Linked DNA regions of Homo sapiens: region 2 is linked to region 1. Evidence: fine-mapped expression QTL. Tissue or cell type: naive CD4 T cells. Region 1 holds a variant in brackets; the other region holds the start of a gene. All regions are shown on one strand. Distances are between the middles of the regions.

Evidence for each region. PIP is the estimated chance that this variant, and not a neighbour inherited with it, causes the effect.
Region 2: GTF3A starts here. The variant in region 1 is fine-mapped to the expression of GTF3A in naive CD4 T cells (Schmiedel 2018, PIP 0.95).

Annotation. Positions count from the first base shown.
Region 1 is chr13:27,378,799-27,386,902 of GRCh38, reverse strand. No RefSeq gene overlaps it. Among named protein-coding and RNA genes, the nearest start is that of GTF3A, 42 kb to the left of the region's middle. RefSeq lists an enhancer at 5,284-5,971 and a silencer at 6,897-7,084. The variant T/C (reference allele first, on the strand shown) is at 3,128.
Region 2 is chr13:27,420,166-27,428,269 of GRCh38, reverse strand. It overlaps GTF3A (general transcription factor IIIA), which reads right to left and starts at 3,651. Exons shown (of 9, transcript NM_002097.3): 1 at 3,332-3,651; 2 at 1,078-1,178. The coding sequence starts at 3,532. RefSeq lists silencers at 1-233, 3,307-3,386, 3,487-3,546, 3,557-3,826 and enhancers at 1,977-2,196, 3,147-3,216.

The DNA.
Region 1 (8,104 bases):
ACAAACCCACAAGCAAAAGTCTCATAGCAAACCGAAGACTTAGGTCCTTTAATAAATGGATCCCCATCTTGCCATTAGCAGTTCATCTCCTCCCCAGCAGTCCTCCTTACTATCCAGCCTCCTGGGGTCCACACACTACACATCAGAGTGCCGCCTCCAGGATTCAGGATTCTCAGACTGTCACCCCTCCTCTGCAGCCATCCACACCCGCCTCCCCTAAGAGGTGCTCCCCTGGCTTTGCCAGCCCTCCAGACCTCTGGCCCTCCGAATTCCTGTTGTATTTCTAATGCTCGTCACAGCATTCAGCACTCAATCAAAGCACTTTCCATGTGGATCACGGCAGATGTGTGCATATCTTGTGATGAGCAAGGCAGGCTCAATCACTGGGCTCTGATTCAGAGTTCCCAGGGAGCTGGAATGATGCAGGCACTTTGGGTGCAGGGATGGGCACAACGGAAGACAGATTGATAATAAAGTTCAAATGTCTTTGAAGATCATGTTTTGTTTTGTTTTATTTTATTTTATTTTATTTTATTTTATTTTATTTTATTTTATTTTATTTTATTTTATTTTATTTTATTTTTGAGACAGAGTCTCACTCTGTCACCAGGCTGGAGTGCAGTGGCATGATCTCGGCTCGCTGCAACCTCCGCCTTCTGGGTTCAAGCAATTCTCCTGCCTCAGCCTCCCGAGTAACTGGGACTACAGGCGCCGGCCACCACGCCCGTCTAATTTTTGCATTTTTAGATGAGACAGGGTTTCACCATGTTGGGCAGGATGGCCTCGATCTCTTGACCCTTAACACACACATACGTGTTGCATTCTACTCCATGATGTGTTCAAGTCTGATAGAGTATAAAACTGAGGTTTACATCATGTGCTGTAATGAAGAGAAAGTGACTGAGATTTGGCCCTCATCTGCCAGCACCCCACTAAGCACATATGGTGAGGCGTAGGAAGCACAGGTGTGCAAAGAATGCGGAGCACACAGGTGGAGCTCAGGCTCGGCTCCGAGGTTCACTGGGTCTTGGGACAGGTTTCTCCAAGCCCCAGCTCCCCGAACTGTAAGAGGGACCATGCCCATCTCCAGAGCCCATGTCACCGTTCAATGGAACGTGCCTGGCTTGCAATAGATGCTCACTAAATGTTGGGTTTCTTCCTTTCCCTCTTTCCATCTGGAGCCCACCTCTCAAGCACCATCAGGCCGGGACTCTTGGAGGAGGCTCAAGGAAAGAAATCAGCATGCAGAAGTCGGGGGAGGTGGCCAACCTGACCAGACGCCTCTGATCCTGCATCTCCTTTGCCCTATCTAAAGTCCTCCCCAACACTGCCTGGCCTGGACCCACTCCCCAGTGAATTCTGTAAGATGAGTGCCTCACTTCTCTGGTAAGTGTTACTGCAAACCGTTTTACAAAGAGATAGGCTGTTGCTGCCCAGCCAAGAGCAAATTCTGAGATTCCAATCACCTACATGCAGGGCTGGGAAAGGAACATGGACCTGCAAAGAGTGGCCCCTAAAATAATTTAGTGGCTGAAAACTAGGAACTTTGCAAATGAGAAGCCACAGTTTCAATATACTTTTTATGCACTTCTAGCAGAGAATCAGCTACGCTGATCACAGTGTTTTTCACTTGCTTGTTAGAATACAAGCTCCTTGGAGAACAGGTCATTTCTTATTCATTTTTATACATTGTATCTCCACATCTGTGCAGTTTCATGAGTAGACACCCAGGAGCTGTTTGTCAGGAGACCTTATACAAAGCAAATCCTTATTCCTATTGAATCCACCACTAATCGTTTCTAAATCAATTTTGTTGATACTTAGTTGACATATCTTGAAAGTTTAGAGATTTATTTTCTACAAAAGACATCACTTTCTCAGGAAGACTAACCTCACCAGAACCCCATTCTCCCAGCTCCTGCTCCAAGTCAGGCAGGGCCCTCCACTGTCTTCCCCCAAAATCCATCATGCCTTTGAAATTGTCTGTTTCTGTGTTCATTTGCCTTGTGCTTAATGATCGTTCCATTCATTTTTATACCTCCATTGTCTGTTCCAGTGCATGAACCGGAAGTACCACTTCAACACCATTCGGTGTATACGGACAGTGAAACTGCATTCCTTTGATGAAGGAATTTAAAATGTTTCATACACAGGAAGGGCTCATCTACAGGGTTTAGTATTTTTGTTATAATTCATTTTTCAGAATTTGTGGGGAGTGATACTAAATTTTGTTTCACAGGAAGAAAGGGAGGAGGGAAAAAGGAAGAAAGGGAGAGAAGGAAGGGAGGCAGGGAGGGAGGGAGGGACTCACAACGCCAGGAAGCTTTATAGACATCATCTCATGTAATCCTCATAACAAGATCCTGGGAGGGGGTACTTATTATCCCCATTCTGCAGATGAGAAAACTGAGGTATAGAGATGTTAAATAACTTGTCCAATTACTAAGTTGCAGAGATGGGATTCAAAACTGACTCAAATCTGAAAGTTCATGCCTTTTCCCTGCACTGTGTTTTCTCCTCTCATAAAACAGATCCTTCAGGACCCGGGGGGCACGATCTCCATGTACTGGCTTCTCTCAGGATCTTCCGAGCTGGCTGAGCTGGCTCTCCTGATGCTGAAACGTAAAAGTTCCCCTGTCCCCCTCGCAAGGCTTGCGATAGAGGGTGCGCCTCGCCTTTTCAATGCCGCACTGCTCAAACCTCTAGAGGCGCATACAGACGGGCAGGCTGTGGGGCTCCAACCCTACAGCAGTGGCTAGGGGTGAATGTTTACAGCTCCTGAAGCCTCAGTGGGCATGTGTTACACGGTACTCTTTTAAGAGTTTAGCTGTCTGCAGGCAGCTTGTGTTAGCTCAGTTAGATCCCCTTCCATATTATCACAAGGACAGAAGGATTTCTGTATCCTGGGGTTTCCTGCCTTGGTGTACTGGAAGAACCCGATCACACGTGAGCTTGGAGAATGAGTGCAAGGCTTTATTGAGTAAAAGTACCTCTCGTCAAACGGGGGAGCCAGAAGGGAGATGGTTTTCCTTGTGGAGCTGGGCCACCTGGCGGCCTAGGCTCTCCTCAGACTGCCCCGTCCAAACTCCGCCTCCTTCCGCGGGTCAATGGCCTGCCAGCATCTGTC[T/C]GAGTGCTCTTCTGCCGGCATGCTCCCCTTGATGTCTCTCGATGTCCAGCCGCTTGTCTTCTTTCATCGATTTGTTTTTCTCCACGTACAGCGGCTTGTGTGTCTGCCTGCTAGGGTCTCGGGTTTTTATAGGTCCAGGATAAGGGTGTGGAAGGTCGGCCAGGGTGGTCTTGGGAAATGCAACAAAAATGCCTGTCCTCACCAAGGTCCATGGGGGTGGAGCCCTAGCCAGGGACCACGCCCTCCTCTACCCTGCACTTCCCTTACCCCCTTCTGTATCATTTAAAGGGACCACGCTCTTCCCTTCCCAGCACCCCCATATCAAGGGTTGGTCCTCCTCCAGCAGCTATGTATCTGAGAGGCTCCTGATGCAATGGCTCAGCATCACAGTTGAAGGACACACACTCCTGCCTTAGAGCAATGGGGAGACCGGTTCCCACAGGAACCGGTTCAGCAAAGGCAGCAAGATGCCAGCCATCAGAGATAAAGGCTGCTGCCACCTATTGAACCTCACAGTGCACAGTAAGGACAGTCTCCAGGACTTCTCCCCCAGGGAGCTGAGCTTTGGGAGAGTAGAGAATTTGCATCAATCACTGAAAGAGACAGAGGGGCCCGTGCCTCTTACACCAGTAAATGGTATATATTACCAAATGCTGGAGGGCGCGAAATGTTTCCTAACTGTGTGATTAGGAATGTGATTCCCACCAGCGCAATTGATCAGGCCACTATGCTACTTAGAATCCTATTTGGGTTTTGTTGTTGTTATTAACGAAGCAGGAATGCAGAGATTATAAATATGATTATTTTACAAATAAGGAAATGGTCCTAGGGAGGTCACCAGAGTGGCCAGGCTCAGACTAGAATGTGTTTGAAATCAATTTATAAAAAATGAAGTCATTTTAAAGATGAAACTGGCATCTTTGCTTATTTTCTGAACTGTTCTCCTAATGAAGAAAACATATTGGGTATTACAGAACAAAGCTCATCTCTTTAACTGGCCAGGCTGATCCAAGAATTGAATACATGAACGACAGAAGGGACATTTTCATGGGGACTTTTCTCTTTAAGAGGCCCCCACGTAGTTGCCCCACTTCCACAAATGTTGCAAGCTAAAGAGCCATACAAATGTCTTAAGGGAGAATAGGGGCCTGATCCGTCTTGTGCCTCTGACTACTCATTTTCCTTATTAGTATAGGTGTGACCTCAGTGTGAATTTTTGCAGAAAAGTCTGGCAACATTTCCTGCTGAGCACAAACAACAAATTACGTGGGGAGGACATCAGCACGATATTCTTCCAAGGACCATGTTAGTCTTATTTGGTACTGCCATTCTCCAAAGGTATCGTGTTGCATGGACACATATATTCTTGGGGAGCATTAATTATTTTAAAAACATGAGTATATGCCAGCTGACATGTCCTGAGAATATTATTGCTAGTTATCCCCAAACTGCCCTACTTTCAGGACAGAGACTGTGTCCTGTACCTCTGTGGCCCCTGCCCTGGTTGTCTGCCCTACCGGAAGTGCTCGTTAAACTTACGGAATGACTGACTGATTGTGTGATGTTTATGTATTCAGCATTGCTAAACAGAGCGGAGGACAGAAATGGTGGTAGGTGTGGGGGGCTCAGGGCTGGGGACATGTCAGATATAACCATATTACTCCCTCGGGCCCTAACCCTAACTTTCCCAGCCTGATAAGTGGGGACTAAGAGGCATGTCTGTGAGAAACAACTGTCCTCACACCCTCTTATTAGTGTAACTCCCTCAAGTCCATTATGAAGGAATTTGTAGAGAAGCAGAGAAGCTGACTGTAAGCTCTGCGGCCCCAGGCAATTAATCTCTAGATGGTGCAGACCCGGGCTCCTGCCCCGTGCCCCCAGGTTGGAATGTGGGATTGCCCCTCGACTGCAGGTGTGGGTGGGGAGGGCCGCCCCTCGTCGGGCTTGAGTCTGTGATGTTGGAGCCGCCCGGCACTAAGAGGAAGCCCATTCTCCAAGCCCAGGCCAGGCCAGGCCGCACCGGCCCCGCTCCCGCATTGATCCTGGCCAAACGAACCCCCCAGCACCTGGGTCTCCCTTGCTGTAAACACTTTTATTTCACCCCTCGGTTTATGGCCTCCCCTTCCAAAGGATCACAACTTGTTTAAACCGGCTCTAAACAAAGGGCTGTCACGATTACAGACCTGCTGCTGGTTTTATGGTGGGCTTCCTTTGTCTAATTCTCTCCCACTCCCTTCCTTCCTCCCCACACCCCACGGCCAGGTACCCAGGCCTTTTAAGAGAGGCCTTCTAGCCAGCTGCTGGGAAGGGAGGGTGAGGGTGCGCTTCCGACTCTCACATCTGGTACCCCTCAGCTGGGGCTGGTTGCCCCCACAGGAGGGGGGGATAGGACAGGTAGGAATCCCAATGTTCCTGGGGTCAGGCTACAGCACGTCCCCCGCCCCCAGGAACGAGAAGAGGGTCTGAGGGTGTCCTCTGGGGGTTCACCTACCACACTGCCTTATAGGGGCCGGGTCCAGCGGGGCTGGGATAAAGAAGGATACCACAGGTACTGTTCTGTTCCTTCAGCCATCCAGACAAAGCCCACACGCCACTCAGCACTCAGGGAATGGTGGAGGCAGGTAGGACTCCTCAACAAGCCAGCTCCGCCCTGCCCAATGTGGGGCTCTGCCCATTGCAGGGACATCCAGACTCCGCTGCAGACACTGAGGACCCTCCCCAGGCACCTGGGCTGAACAGACTCCAGCTAGCATCCTTCTCTCCTTTGCTGCCTGCCTGCCGCTTTTCTCAAGAGGGTGCTAACTCCCCTACCGCCCCTCCCCCACCCCCCCCCCGACTGGGCTTCCTCTAGGAGGCTAGATGGGCAGAAGTGCTCAGGGATCCTGGGGCACCTGAAAGCAGGAAGGTTCTCCAAGGTTTGTTTGGGGCTCACTCGCACTCAGGAGAGTGGGCCATGGCTTTGGATAGAGGCACCACCTCTGCTAGACACTGGCCGCTGCAGACACAGGTCTCCCTCCCAGGGGCTCCCTGAAGACCAGGACAGGACAAAGACCAGGACAGGATGAAGGAGGCAGAATGACTTGTGGGAGGCAATGCAGTGGGGTCACATTTACTTCCCCTTGTTTCAGCCTGGGGAACGCCTCTTGGGAAAAAAGTATTTGTTCAGGGGACTGCAGTGAAAGCTTTGAAAGAAACCACTGGAACTGGCAGGCTGAGGCTGGGAGTGTGGAGAGAGGAGGTGTCAGACCCTCGCGTTTGCTAAACAGGCTGACTCCAGAGAAAGAAGGTTGTGTCCCCTTTATGCCCTGGTCACATGAACACACAAATGGCCTTAGGTTGGCTCAGGACGTGCTCCAAGGAACAGAAGGGGGACCCTAGAGACAGTGGGGGGTCACGAGGGACTGTCTTGATGCCCTTTCCCCATTGGCACATCTGGTCCTCTCTCCAAGTGTGCCATTCTGTACAGAACAAGTGGGGAGGTGAATCCACCCAGAGCTGGGCCTGACACACGGTGGACACATTTGAAAAATAAAGGTAATGTGATTGCTCTGCAGTTTCCAGTCTACAAAGAAAAAGATGCAGGAAGGCAAACACACAATCATCAGAAGGAATGTGGCGCCCCCCTGGGGATGGGATGGGAACAACGGTGCAGGAAAACCCCACGGCCTCTTCTTCCTGGACTCAAGCCTCTGAGTTAGAAGCCAGCCTGACTCCTAACCAGCGGCAGCCGAACAGCCCGTGCTCCAGCAACCTGGGCCAGTGCCGCCTGAGGGCAACCAGATTCCAGAGTCACTCCAACCTTCTGGAAATCCACTGTAGGCTGACCTTGCCCCAGTCCTTGCCTGTGTTCCTTCTCATTTTATAATAAAAATCCAGCATTTCTGTAGTGATTTTTTCCAGTTTAAAAATTGCTCAGTCACCATTTTTTCTTTTTTTTTTCAGAAGAGAAAAAGGACTTAGAAAAGTTAAATTACTTATTTTCCAAACTGAGCTATAGATTCAATATAATCCAAATAAAAATGCCAGAACGCTTTTTTTCTTTTTTTAGAAATCAACAATCTGTTTCCAAAATTTATATGGAAATACAAAAGCCCGAGAATAGGTAAGACATTCATCAAGAAGATTACAATTGAAGTTTCTACATTACTGGAAACCAAGACTTATTATAAACATACAGTAATTAAGACCAAGAGGTATTGATGCAAGGATAGAAAAATAACAGGCCAGGCACAGTGGCTCATGCCTGTAATCCCAGCACTTTGGGACGCTGAGGCAGGAAGATCATTTGAGCCTAGGAATTCAAGATCAGCCTGGGCAATATGGTGAAATCCTGTCTTTACAAAAAATAAATAAATAAATAAAAAATAAATAAATGCAGGCGTAGTGGCATGTGCCTGTAGTCCTAGCTATTTGGGAGGCTGAGATGGGAGAATTGCTTGAGCACAGGTCAAGGCTGCAGTGCGCCATGATCACACTACTGCATTCCAGCCCGGGTGTGCAGCCAGATTCTGTCTCAAAAAACAAACAAAAAACCCAAAGAGTCCAGAAATAAATCCACACATACATAGACAAAACTGGATTTATGACAAAACTTGAAGCTCAGAGGACAGAGGAAAAAATGGTCTTCATAATTGGTATTAGGGAAATTGGCTATTGGTATTTCTTTTTTTAAAATAAATTTTGGCCCCATCTCATACCATATACAAAAATCAGTTGCAGATGGATTGGTCATCTAAATGTGAAAGGTAAACGAATAAAGTTTCTAGAAGAAAATAGGAAAATATCTTCCTGGTCTTGAGGTGAGAGAAAACTCTTCCTAAACAGGACACTGAAATCCCTAACCATAAAAAAAAAAAACAAAAAAAAACAGATAAGTTGAACTATATTAACATTAGGAACTTTTGTTCATCAAAAACACAATTAAGAGAGTGAAAAGGCAGGCCAAGCGCAGTGGCTCACACCTATAATCCCAACACT
Region 2 (8,104 bases), 41 kb before region 1:
ATGGAGAGTCCAGGGAGCTGCCTTATCTTTGCTATGGGTCACTGGACAGACAGCGAGGCCACCTCTCCAGACAAGAACATGAGAGAAGATCAAACAGAAAAGTGAGCTCAGTTTGACTGTGACAAATTTGGGCCATGTGGAATTTTTTATTTATTTATTTCTTTAATAGAGATGGACCTGACCATCTTGCCCAGCCTGAACTCCTGGCCTCAAAGCAATCCTCCCACCTCAGCCTCTCAAAGTGCTGGGATTACAGGCATGAGCCACCACACCCAGCCTACCACATGGAATTTAAGAAGACACAGAGATAGCCAAGTAGCACTGTCCAGCGAGCAGTGGGAAACGGGGAACTACAGCTAAAGAGGGGCAGGGTCTGGGTTAGATCATGAGCTGGAAGAGTCATGTCCAGTAGTTCCTGGTTGCATGGCATTTCCTACCATCCCCACCCCCTACTTGGCCAGGATCCCCCACTGCTCCCAAAACAGATGACATTTTTAGTTTTGTTATGTAACTTTTAAGACTTCTTTACAAATAGGAACAAATACAAATATAGTTGCTTCCTGCCTACCCAACACCCACTACTCACCCCTCCCCCTACCCCCTAGCTTTTTTACACACATAAAAGTAGCCTAAAGAGGACTCTTCTGCACCTTGGTTTTTCAATTAAAGTGCCCTGGTGATTTTCTCATGGCTTTGCAGAGAGCATCTGCATTCATTTTCCTGGCTGTAGGGTATCCCATTGTGTTGATATACTTTAGCTTGTCCCCACCCATGAGCATTTTATGTTAGCTCAGCCTCCTGGGTAGCTAGGATTACAGGCACAAACCACCATCCCTGACTAATTTTTGTATTTTTGTACATACGGGGTTTCACCATGTTGCCCAGGTTTGTCTCAAACTCCTGGGTTCAAGTGATCTGCCCATCTCCGCCTCCCAAAGTGCTGGGATTACAGGCATGAGCCACCGAGCCCTGCCAGGCTTCACATTCCTGATCTCGTGAGTTAACATCAATCTTCTTACTGGGTCTATATGCCCAACACAACCCACTTCAAAAGCCTAAAAACAGGTCTCTACTTACACAAACGGCTTTTCTCCTGTGTGAGTCAGAATGTGGCGGCTCAGATGGTAGTCCCTGATGAAGGCCTTGCCACACCCTTCATAGTCACAAACAAATGGTCTCTAGCAGGAAAAAAGAAAAAGCATGTCACTTCTGCACTAGTTAGTAACTCTGGTATTATTTAAAAGCTTAAACTGCCTAGTGTTAAGGCCACAGGCTTCCTATGAAGAGGTGGTTTCTACTCAGAGCTGTGCACCCACTGCAAGACGCAGTGTTCCTGCACAAAGTTACACAACATAAACATCACAACTTCTCACAAAGTCACTACACAGATTTTTGTTCCATGAACAGCATTTAAAATAAGCAGGCATAGCATTTTTAACCTGCTCCCAACCCGGCAGCAGGCTTTCACAGCAACCCCCTCTTAAAGACGCCCTGGCTGTTAGCATGGCTTGTCTGCATGGATCCCCACCACCGCATGATTTAACATGTAAAAAAGCAAGCCTAGGGCAGAGGAACGAGGGAGGCCTGTCTCATCCCAGACAAGCCCAGGGTCTGTGCTAGGATAATGCCAAGCACAGCTATAGGAAAGTGTGTCACACCTGAAAAAGCTCACAGGTGCCAGGGCGAAGCAAAGAAAACAGCTCAACACCCTAAATGCAACCACCTTTTGTAACCCAGGAGTTGGGAGGGGGTGACTCATTTTGAACCTATAGTAAAAGCCAAACACACACCCCAAATAACCAAATAACCAGTTTGGTGCATCAAACTATGAAAAGCATACTACCAAGGCGTCCAGGAGGGAGGCACCGAGGCCTCCATGAGAGTACTAGGAGCAAAACAAGCAAACAGGAACACAGTGAGCTACATACCACCAGGGGCGGAGCCACAGAACCTTGCACAGCGGCAGGCGTGGAGTAGGCTCAATAAACATTTGTCAAATTAATCTGCATGAGAGATCTGGGACAACAAAGATGACTCCAAGTTTTTCAACCTGTATTAAGGAAACTGGTAGCGCCAGTATCCAAAATACAGCACACCGGTCTAAAAGGAAAGGCAAGCTCTTACGTGGATCTACTGGTAATACAGAGCCCAGAATTTAGAGGCTAGAACGGGCAAGAGGAAGGGCAGAGGGGCAAAGCATAAAGGATGTTATGAGTCATGCCGGTGGCTATGTAAGACCGCAAGAGGGAGCTGGGCGGGGTGGAACATGCAGAGGGCAGAAGAGGATCCAACGAAAAGGGCAGACGAGGAAGAGGAAAAGAACCAGAGAAGGTCTCAAGGAAGAAGCGGTCGGCCTTCCAGTGCTGGAGAGGTTAAGGAATGAGGCCCCGGAGGACACCTGGAGAAGGTGGCCCATAAATTAGAGGAGGTGCAAGGGGCAAAGGTATGGACTGCAGCCCAGTGGTTTAAGAAATTAAGGGCTTTAAGCTGAGGCAGTGTGAAGCCTAGCTCTGCCAAAAACTGGGAAGCTGGGCAGATTCCTTGACCTCCATGACCCTCGTTTTCCTCACTTGTGTGTGACATGGGCTGCCACGTCATATCATGGTATCTGACATTCTCCTGCCCTCAAAATAAAATCCAAACTCCTAATGGGCCTACTTCTCAGACCTCATATGGTGATCTCCGCACCCAAACACACCCACCTGCCTCCCACCCCAAGGGTCACAGGCTCCCTTTGTGTTCTCTCTACCTAGCACAAATGTCTGCATGGCTAGATCCTTCCTTCTTACACGGCTCACACAGAGAGGCCTTTCCTGACCACAACACTGCATGTCATTCCCACCTATCCTGTGGTCGGCTCGACCCAGGAACAAAGGTCCATGGCAGCAGAAACCTTGGGTTTGCCTGTTTTGCTCACTGCTCTCTCCAGTGTGGAGTTACGAAGAAATGAGCACATGCTGCTTTCACGACCCCTGGTACATGTAACCCATCTTCTGTACCAGCTCCAGGGGCCAGTGTTTGGCAGGTGTCTAGTAGCGGTGGGCCCCCTCAAACCTCACACTTATTTGCAGATTACGGGAGGCACTTGGCTGGCCGAGACTCACGATCAATGACTGCTTAGTAAATCCCGAGCCCCTGCCATGGATATCAAGGTCGCAGAACGAAGGTCCTACAACTTCCTGTCTACTTCCTCAGCTCCTTCCCCAAGTCCTGGATGTCAAAGCTGAACGCGCTGCACAGCGGGGCCTGCGGCCCTGGCCACGACTGCAGTGGCTACCCCGGGGCCACGCGCCATCCCTAGGCCCAGGGTTGGCAGCCTCGCCCCCCTCACCTCCCCCGTGTGCTTGCACAGGTGCGCGTCAAGCTTCCAGGCTTTGCTGTAATTGGCGCTGCAGTCAGGGAAGGAGCAGATGAACCTCCTGGGAAGCGCGGGGCGCGGCGGGGTCGGAGCTGAGCTCTCGCCGGCTGCAATGAACGCGTCGGCGATGGTCAAGGACGACACCGACTCGGCGACCACGGCCGGCGGATCCAGGGCGCCGGCGCCTCCAAGCCCAGGGCCAGGCGCGCTGCCACGTGCCGAGACACGTGCCGGGAACCGGCGCGCCCGGCCCACGGCTCCCTGCTGAACCTTCGCGCGACGCCGGCACACTTCCGGGAGCGCGCGCGGTCACCAGGCACCGCCCCGCGTCGGCGCCGCTGCTGCGCATGCTCCGGGAGATCGCGCATGCGCCAGGAGGCCCCGCCGCGGCTCGCGGCCCGTGCCCTGTCAGCCCTGGATGAGAGGCGGGGGTTTCTGCGTCCTCGGCAGAAGGCTGCTGCGTTTCACAGGCAACTCAAATCCCGAGGCACTGCTTAAATGGGGCTTGTTTCCCGTCCTCCAGTACACTCTGGAAAGCACTAGCCTTACATAATTTAAGTTAGCCTGTTGCCACATTACTAGTGTGACCTGTGTGGTTTCGTTTCTTTGCGTGCTTTACGTGCTTCTGCTGCAAGCCCCAGTTCAGAGGTTCCTAAGCTCAGATTCACGTGGAGAGCTTTACAAAATCCCGAAGCCTAGAGGATACTTGGACCACTTAAATCACAATTTCTGGGGGTAGGAAACAGGCATCAGTATTTTTGGAAACTTCCTAGGTGATTTCAATGCGCAGAAAAGTTTGGGAACCACTATCCTGGCACAGTAGTGCGCACCTGTAGTCCCAGGTACGCGGGCGAATCGCTTGAGCCCAGAGTGAGACCCCGAGCTCTAAAAGAATAAATACAGATGTCTCCCCATCCTACCCTTCCCCACCCCGGCAAACTGACCAGGTGGTTGGAAAAAAAAAAAAAAAAAAAGGAAAAGTTTGGGAACACTGCCCTAGAGCCTTGATGACCTACTTGAAACAAATCTCCAGGTGATTCAGTGCATATCAAAACCTGAGAAGCACTTTTGAGAGGCCTGAATGAATATGAGTATCTTAGTTTATGAGGACCACATGCCTAAAAAATGTCCTTGGATACAGATAACTGGCAGGATGACTTGGGGGATGTTCGCCAGATCCATATTTTTCACATCCTGCATTATTCCGAATCATTAAGCCCTTGTCGGAATGTGATGAACAGGTCCCTGCACAGCAGTGCAGTTCTGGAAACAAGCCAGGGCTTAACATCAGTGCTTATGAACTGAGTATTCCAGTTCATAAACACTCCTTTGCCTCAGTCTGCTCATCTTGAAAGTGGGAAAGTTGATAACGCCTGTGTCATCCTCCGTCTCAAGATAACGGGGCTGTGAGAGTGTCTATGCCTTGGGTCCACCTGTTGCTTTCTTCATTTGCCACTCTAGCCCCTGTCCATGGATGGGAGAATTCTACACTCATCCCTCCCACAACTCCGGAATTCTAAAATGGTTTCTCTTGCGCCAGTTCTGGTTTTCTCCTCCCCATGCCTCATGCCCAGGGCCAGGGTGCACGGTAAATCTCTGAGATCCTCCTTTCTTTTGGCCTTTCTTGGCCACTGACCCCATGCAGCATAGCCATACTCATGGCTTCCCCCTGCCTTCCTGACTTGTCCTGTCTCCTTGGACAATCGTTCTTCCACCTTTTTAGGTTGGTGCTTAGCCCTGTGCGCTGATGTATTATAGCAGGCGAGCGCTGGCTTTCAGCCTCAATCCCCTGACGTTGAATTCCAACTCTAAATTTACTAACTAGGATTTTGGATAAGGGCTCTTTGAGTTTCTTATCTTTAAACTGAGACTGTTAATACCCACCAGTAAGGGTCATTTTTAAAATTAAATGAAATTCTATTAACCAATAGTTGTATTTATTATGTGCCATCCCCTATGCTAGACACATTTACCACCAATCTACAGCTCTTCCAACAACTCTCCACGTAAAGCAGCTAATAGGATCCAGGTCACTCTGTATACTCAAAAACTTTTGGTCTTTTTTCTTTGTTCTTTCTCACCCTGTGATCCACAGCTCCACCTCCTTTCTCTCTGCAGTTTACTTCCCAATGTGTTTTTCTTTCTTTCTTTCTTTCTTTTTTTTTTGACAAAGTCTTGCTCTGTTGTCCAGGTTGGAGTGCAGTGGTGCAATCTTGGCAATCTCGGTTCACTGCAACCTCCACTTCCCGGGCTCAAATGATTCTCCTGCCTCGGCCTCCTGAGTAGCTGGAAGTACAGGTGCGCACCACCACACGTGGCTAATTTTTGTATTTTTAGTAGAGATGGGGTTTTACCATGTTGGCCAAGCTGGTCTCGAACCCCTGACCTCAAGGGATCCATCCGCCTCGGCCTCCCAAAGGGCTGGAATTACAGGCGTGAGCCACTGCGCCTGGCCCCCAATGTGTTTTTCTAATTTTTCTAATATCCCACATTTCTAGATGACAACTGGGGTTTGGTTTGTGTGTGTGTGTGTGTGTGTGTGTGTGTCTGTCTGTCTGTCTGTCTGTCTGTGTGTGTTTTACTTGAATGTCAGGCAGTCACCTTAAACTCAACATTCTTTGTAAGTCAATCTTACTGCCTTTTTCTGGCCACACCTCTTTTTGCCCTTTTTCTCTCTGTCAATGGTGGCATAATTCTGTCTCCAGCCACGAAAACTTATAACAGTGGTTCTCAACCCTGGCTGCACATTAGTCACCTGGAAGCTTTTGAAAATGCTGTTGCCACCATACCAGTGAAATGAGTCTCTTATTCAGGGTTGGAAACCATTGACAGTATCACCTGCTCTCTCCTCTGCACTTCCCTAGCTGGCCTCTGTACCTGTCCTTTCCATTTTCCTCCTTCCCCACCTCTGCTAGGCTTTTCTTTGCTCTAGGCCTTGACACCTGTAACAGCCTGTCAACAGATTTTCCTGCCTTTACACTCTCCCGCCTTTAGTCTCTCTTGCCTATAGCTGCCCGTGTCATCTCCCTAAAACACCCGAGACTTTATAGGTTTAAATTTACAACACTAGTATTTGCAAAGCATTTGTATTCCTGCTAGCTATTATTCCTACAAATCAGGTAACAATGCTCAGGTGGGACATGGAAGCCCAGGGTGCAGGCCTCCTCCAGGCCCCTTCCTACCTGAGGCTCAAGTCCAGGCCCAGATCAAGTTCTGCCTCCTCTAGATAAGCCTCCCCTGGTGACTGCAACCCGCACCCGCCCTCTCTTCCTTTGAACTTTTGTGGCCTTTTCTTTCTATAGTAATGCTCAAATGTGTTGGGCTATTTTTAACTATTTAGGCACATAATTTCTAATTTCTCTGATCTTGATTTAACCTCTATAAGGCTAGAGACTGGAAGATACTCTTTTCGAGTCCTCAGTAGCAAGACGACATGCATACATGAAGGGCTAACCTTATTATTTATTAGTTGAATGAACAACTATGAACTCATTGTGTGAAGCCTTAAAGATTTTACATGAATGTCTTCAGCAAGGAATCTTTTGTGTGCACGGAACATAATTCCATTCAAACTAATCTAATGAAAAGGGAGTTATTGTAAGGATACAAGGGGATCTCACGGGACCAACTACAGAAAGGCCTCAGGGTGGGAGAGTTGTCTGCAAACGCTTTGGGTCTCAGTCTGTCACTGTTGGGATCTGCTGTCCTCCTTAGTCTCACTCCCCCTTTGCTCTCCAGTCATCTCTTAGACTGCTGCATTCATGTCCTGTGTGCACATGTGTGTGCGTTGCTCAGCTCTCCCTCCCATGACCTTCCCTTTCCTCCCTCCTGCCCACCTACCCTCCCAGGTTTCATGTCCTCTCAGGCCCAGGCCTCTCCTTACCTCTGCCTGTCTCTCCACTCTCTTCTCTGCAGATCAGCTTCATCGGTAAGGATGAGTTTCTGCCTCTGTGATTGTAGTTTTCTGAGGGCTTTGGCTCCACTCAAGCAGCCCAGACCTTATGTAATCTGTTCCCTTAACTCCCCATGGCTAATGCCCCCTGAAAGAGAACCTTTGGCCCAATAGGGGTTCAAGCTCTTCCCCAGGCCCAAACAGCTTTGGTCTGGAGGGGATAAAACTGGGAGTCATGAAGGTCAACCTCGAAGGTGAACTTAAACAGAACTATGGTGTGCCTGCTCAAGTGAGTAAATGTCATGTATTAGCTGCCTTTTGCCATGTGGCTTTGTTTTGCCCGTAAAGAGGGCTGGAGATATTTTCTCACCCATTGTCTACGAGTCCATCCACATGACGTGCTTCCATTCTGTAAGTTGGAACTGACGGTGTGCAGGTTCCAAGCCTAGGCCTCAAGAGACCTCATGTATTGCTCCCTGTGCTCTGCCATTGCCACAAGGACCACATTTCTGCATCAGTCTGTCTCAGGAAAAAGACAGATGTGAGGGGCAAAGCCGAGCCATCTCAGCTGAGCCTTGCCTCCCATCAGCTGACCATCAGCCAATCCACAGATCTGTGACCATAAATGACTATAAGCCAATAGCTCTAGGGTAGTTTTGTTATGCAGCAATTTTGTGGCAGTAGCTAACTTCTACACCCTCTTTGCTGGTGCTTCCCCTCAGCCAATATATATGCTCAGATCTCTTTGTCTTAGCCTATTTTACATTGATATAAAGGAATACCTGAGGCTGCGTAGTTTATAAAAAAAAAAAAAGAGGTTTATTTGGCTGATGGTTCTGCAGGCTGTACAAGAA